Linked DNA regions of Homo sapiens: region 1 is linked to region 2. The links come from fine-mapping of genetic effects on gene expression. A gene starts in region 2. The other region holds a variant in brackets. All regions are shown on one strand. Distances are between the middles of the regions. Region 1 overlaps LOC102724495 (a long non-coding RNA gene). Region 2 holds the start of WNT2 (Wnt family member 2).

Evidence for each region. PIP is the estimated chance that this variant, and not a neighbour inherited with it, causes the effect.
Region 1: its variant is fine-mapped to the expression of WNT2 in lung (GTEx, PIP 0.96).

The regions. Positions count from the first base shown.
Region 1 is chr7:118,292,528-118,295,444 of GRCh38, reverse strand. All of the region lies in intron 1 of LOC102724495 (a long non-coding RNA gene), which reads right to left. Among named protein-coding and RNA genes, the nearest start is that of ANKRD7, 69 kb to the right of the region's middle. The variant G/C (reference allele first, on the strand shown) is at 1,661.
Region 2 is chr7:117,321,926-117,324,778 of GRCh38, reverse strand. It overlaps WNT2 (Wnt family member 2), which reads left to right and starts at 1,721. Exons shown (of 5, transcript NM_003391.3): 1 at 1,721-1,872. The coding sequence starts at 1,790. LOC105375467 (a long non-coding RNA gene) reads right to left here. Exons shown (of 2, transcript XR_007060645.1): 2 at 2,547-2,721. RefSeq lists a silencer at 1-450 and an enhancer at 1,853-2,427.

The DNA of each region.
Region 1 (2,917 bases), 970 kb before region 2:
AAACTAGTCCAAACCTTGCCACACATTACCTTCTTGCAAATAATCACAGATAGCAAGTCCCCAATTCATTCATTCTCCAAGTAAAATATCTTCAATTCTATCATGGCTGTCCCCAGACAGTGGCCCAAAAACACACTCAATGCCTAGCCATATGCACTCTTCAATTTAATTAAAGAACCTCCTGAGGTGAGTTTTCCAGAACAGAACACAATACCCTGGAGAGTTCTTTCCAGGATGAAGTTGAGAAGCTCTGTTCCAGTCTTCACCAACGATATTCAACTTCTATTGTGGAGATCACAAAAAAACCCTGACATATTGAGTATATTTTCAACTCTAACTAAAATACCTCTCACTAATAATATAAATCATCATATTACCTGGTAGTGATCAACACAAGGAGTTATATTAGTGCAAAAGGTCCCCAACATATTGTTTTTGAAAACATGGGAAGTATAACTGAGTCAGTCAATAATGTGTTGGAGGCAAATAATATTATCCCCATTTACAGATGAGACACAGATTGAAGGGCTTACTCAAGGTTACATAGTCAAGAAGAAACAGAAATGAGTCTAGAATTATCTAAATCTACTGTGCCACATTTTTCACTTCACCATGCTTCCTGTATGTTTTTCATGACCTCTATCTATAGCATAATTTGTAACAAATAAAATTATCCATAGAGTAGCATAGAATTAGAGTAAAAAATAAGTCTACTTTTTATGTATTTATTTATTTTTTGAGACAGGGTCTCACTGTTATCATCCAGGCTGTAGGGCAGTGGCACAACACAACTCACTGCAACGCTGACCTCCTGGACTCAAGTGATCTTCCCACCTCAGCCTCCTAAGTAGCTGGGATCACAGGCAGAGCGCCCACAACATTCAATTAAATTTTTTGTTTGTTTGTTTCACTTTGTAGCGGTAAGTTCTTGCCATGTTGGTCTCTAACTCCTGGGCTCAAAGCAACGGGTTTACAGGCACCATGCCCAGCCAAGAAATAGGTTTACACATATAACTCTATTGCTTGCTTTTTACCCTTCTGCATACATCTTAAAAATATTTGAAGAAAAGATTTGGGGCTTGTTTAGTACTTCCCAAGAACAAGATTCTTCTTATAATATTTAAAAAGGAAATTATAATTAATTCAAGCTGACAGGTGATTTTTCTTAAGGGTCTAGAATGATGAGAGTAGCATTTTATGCTAAGGCTTTAACATGACAAACAAAATAAGAATAATTATGTGGTTGAACTAAAAATTATGAACTACAGATTCAAAATTTATTAGCATTGACCTAAAAGCCATTTAAAAGATTGAAAGTGATACCAGCTTTCACCAGGTTTTCAGTTCCTTTCCAGAAGGGAATTGACAGATCCCTTAGAGCCATAAACCTATGTAAGCAGAGAGGATTCAAGTGGGATCCTGCTTGACACAGATTGCGCCTGTTGCCTAGAAAGTAAGAGGAAGGTCCCTGAACTACAGAACTCAAGGAACTTCATGTGTGTAATTTATACACCACCCAATGGCCCCAAAAGTCCTATTTTCTCATAAGCTCGGAGACTTGTAGGTGCATCTGCAATGATTTTTATTCATTTCTGAGATATGTTGTGGGATTATGTCACAAAGTTCACTTGATAGAAAACCATATTCCCTCGAATTCACT[G/C]AGATATCTGGATCTGGTTCTGTTGCAAATTTATAGAGGAAAAAAAGTGCAAATCTGTCATTTCCACATAGTAAGTATCCCCCAAGATGGGGGACTCTAGTCGGGTGTGTCAGGGTGACTATCGTGGTTAGGAAAAGATGCTTATTTTGTAATACAATTAGCTAGAATAGCTCAACATCTCACCTTCCCGGCTGATGACACAATCCATGGTCATCTGAAGGTCTGGCATTTTACCTTGTCATATTTTACTGCATTCTCTTTCATTCTGTTCTCAGGAGCCTCATTTGGCCCTATTTGGCCTTGATTCACAGTGCACAACCTGAAAACAATTTCTCATATAAAATATTTATTTGGCTGTACAAGAAAATTTTTCCTTATAGTTTTATTCTCTCAAACACAATCAAAGAAGATGCACTCTTGTTCCTGAAGTATTTAATCACTGTTCCTCTAAAGATGGGTAGCTTGCAACAACCACAGCAATTTATTTCCCCCAATTTATTTTGGAATACTTTGAAATCATAAAAAGAGCATTGTATTTAAAATTAGAATGTGTGACCTTGAATCCAGTCTCTGCCACTAGCTTGCTAAAAGTACCTTCACTTCTCTACTCTGAGTCTGGGTTTTGTTCTCTTTTGGGTATGAAAACAATACCCATTTTAGAGCTATTGTGATGATAAAATTAGACAAATTACATTAAAACAAGGAGGCATTCATAATGTGTGAATTTTCTACCTAGAGATATAATTTTTGTGAATAAGGCTATTGACTTTGTAAATCCTCAGAATTCCAAACATACTGTATGTGTTCATCCAAGAAAAATTATTATCCAGGGAAGTAAAAGCCAATATAGTAACAGATAGTGATAAAATCTCTATTGAGTATATTGTTTTTATTAGTATTATTTATTTGGCAGATCATAATTGTGTATGTTTAAGGTGTACAATGTTATGTTTTGATATATGTATGCAATGCGACATGACTAAATCAAGCTAATTAATATATCCTTCACCTCACTTATCATATTTTGTGGGGAGATATTTGAAATTTACTCAGCCATTTTGAAATACACAATATATGATTATTCACTATAGTCACCTTGCTCTCCAATAGATCTCAAAGCTTAATGCCCGTGCCTAAAAAAAAAAACATTGTACCTCTTGACCAGCAACCACTCAACTATTCATTTTGTTGAATATTTTTGCATCTAGGTTCATCAGGTATATTGGACTATAATTTTCTTTTCTTGTAGTGTCATGG
Region 2 (2,853 bases):
TTTGGTGCCTATCATACCCTCCCCATGGCCGGCGTGCACACACGGCGAGCAGAAACGCTCCCCCGCCCCGCTGCCTGCCGCCCCACGCGCCCTCCCTGCACCTCCCGCCCGACCGACGCAGACCAAGCAGAACTTCCCTGGGTCGCGGCCCAGCGATACGGAGCGGCCCTGGCGAGGAGCCCTGCTCTTCCCGAGTCGTGGGTGGCGCGGTGCTTGTTTCCCTCCCCTCCCTTTCCGGACCCAAACGGGGATGTATCTGGGTCAGCCTGGGAGGGGCCGGACCTGCCAGGGACCAGCGTGGGGGAAGGGGGTGGCGATGACAGCATCTTTCAGGTTTTTGGCGTCTCTGAGCTTCGCCTCGTCCAGCCTCTCACCGCGCTCGCTGCCGGCGAGGGCTGACGCTCTGGCCAGTCCAGGCCCGAGGGTGGGCTGGAGAGAGGGAGAGCCCGTCCTTCCGATCTGGGCGGCACCCCCTCCCCCACGCCCTGCGAACAATTCGCCTCCCACACATACACACAGGCGCATACTCTATTCCCCAGAGCACGCTCCTCGGGCGGGCAGTGAGTCCCTCCGCCCCAGGAAAAGAGCAATGGAACAGTTCACGGCCGCCACGAGTTCCTGGTCTTCCTTCCTTTCCGGTGATAAACGGCGCGGCTACAAGCCAGCTACTGCTCAAAATGCTCCACCCGCGGGCCCAAGCCCCTCTCTCTTGGCTGGGCGGGGGCCCAGGTCCAGGACCGAGGGTCCCTTAACCTCCACAAGGCGCACAGGCTGAGCGCCCAGGCGGCAGGAGGTGCAAGGGCGCACACCCCCGGCGAACGCCTGGCTGCCTCGGTTCCTCTCTATGTGATCTTTTGCGCTCCGCAGCTCCGGAGAGGAGCTGGGTGTGCGTAAAAACTGCATCTTTCCTGGGTGCTTTGGCAGATACTGCTGGGTTAGGTCCCGAGGGTCATGGACCCTCCAAGTTCCCCTCCCTATGGGCTCTGTATTTAAGCCCAGCACCAAGGAATCAAAGCCAACAGGTCATTTCGCAGAGGCCTGGCCCCTCCCTAACCTTGCCCTGCATAGACGCGGCAGCTCCAAATTTACAAGTGCTAGCTCTTCATCCCAGCTTCAGGGAGAGAAGCGAAGCAATGAGTTGAGAATCATCTCTGGATTCTTGTATCCCATGCATAGTAATCTCCTTATCCCCTGGCCCCCTTCCTCGTTTCCTCACATTGCACGCTCAGGGACTTGTTTGCCAGCGGATGGCCTCGGCAATCCGGAACGCACGCTCCGAGAGCCCACGGATGCTCTTTGGCCTGGAGCTTCCCTAAAGGTTCCTGTATTCGCGTGTGCTCGTAACCATGCAGCGATGTTCCCCCTTCCCCGCCTCACCTCATCCCCAGACATCTCTTGCCATCATTTCATGCACCCGTGTCTAAAACCCCGCGTTTCTCCCCACCCCCGCCAGGCGCAGCACCCCCTCCCTCGGCTGCGCCCGGAGGGGAGCAGAGCGGACGGGGCGCGCGGGAGGCGCGCAGAGCTTTCGGGCTGCAGGCGCTCGCTGCGCCTGGGGAATTGGGCTGTGGGCGAGGCGGTCCGGGCTGGCCTTTATCGCTCGCTGGGCCCATCGTTTGAAACTTTATCAGCGAGTCTCGCCACTCGTCGCAGACGCGAGCGGGGGGCGGGGGCGCGGCGAGGCGCCGGCGGCCGTGACGAGGCGCTCCCGGAGCTGAGCGCTTCTGCTCTGGGCACGCATGGCGCCCGCACACGGAGTCTGACCTGATGCAGACGCAAGGGGGTTAATATGAACGCCCCTCTCGGTGGAATCTGGCTCTGGCTCCCTCTGCTCTTGACCTGGCTCACCCCCGAGGTCAACTCTTCATGGTGGTAAGTCCACGCGCACGGGCGCGGGGGATTTTGGAGATCGGAATGGGGACCGCATTGGCCACATAGACCCTTCCTGGCTGCGTTCCCCCGCGGCCGCAGCAGTCTCGGATTCTGGCCCGAACCCTGGCTACTGCCCTCTTATCGCCCCATGGTGAGCCCCTTCTCTTTTCCCAGAAGATCATTTCAGCTTTGACAACTCCATAAAACCACATTCCCCCTCAAATGAGAGCTCCGATGTTTGGTTTATTTGGATCCAGCTGAGCGACAGCAAAATCAGCCAATTTCTTATCCTGTTGAGAGACGTGCTAGCCTGGTCTCCAGCTCTAGCACAGACGTGTGTGTGTGTGTGTGTGTGTGTGTGTGTGTGTGTAAATTCACCTTGAAAACTACAACCGCCTCCCCCATCCCAGCCCCCACCCCGCCAAAACTGCCTCAAGGTAAATCGACGGGCCAATTCAGCCAGTCAGGAGTTGTAGAACCTAAAGCGTGTGACTTTGTATTATTTCCCGTCCTTCCACATTCCAGGTTCACCCCAGTGGGGCGGAAGAACATTTTGCTGCCTCCAGTTAGAGACTATGGCTTTAATGCAAAGCTACAGACCCCGGGGTCTGTCTCTAAGATGTTACCTTGTTCACAACCGTCCCCGCGAAGAGTAACTTTGCTGCTTTCCTTTGTACGTTGGTCTGCAATTTATTTATTTATTTTTGCATAGTGATGGAATGTTGAACCATACCAGGTCGCTAAAAGTTCCAAAGGCAGATTCCCTCCCCATCTAGAAACCGTTCTCCATCTGCCGACTTTCTGGTCTTGGAAAGAGATAGAGTTGATAGCCCTGTAATTTCCTTGCACCTAAAAGTTTCAGAACAGATATTAAAATATTGATTCAGAGACACCCGTTATCGTGGGCTAATTTTTAAAGAATCTGGTAAGGGGTCTCAGCTAAATTACAGACTAGAGCAGGGAAATTTTTAGGAAGACACT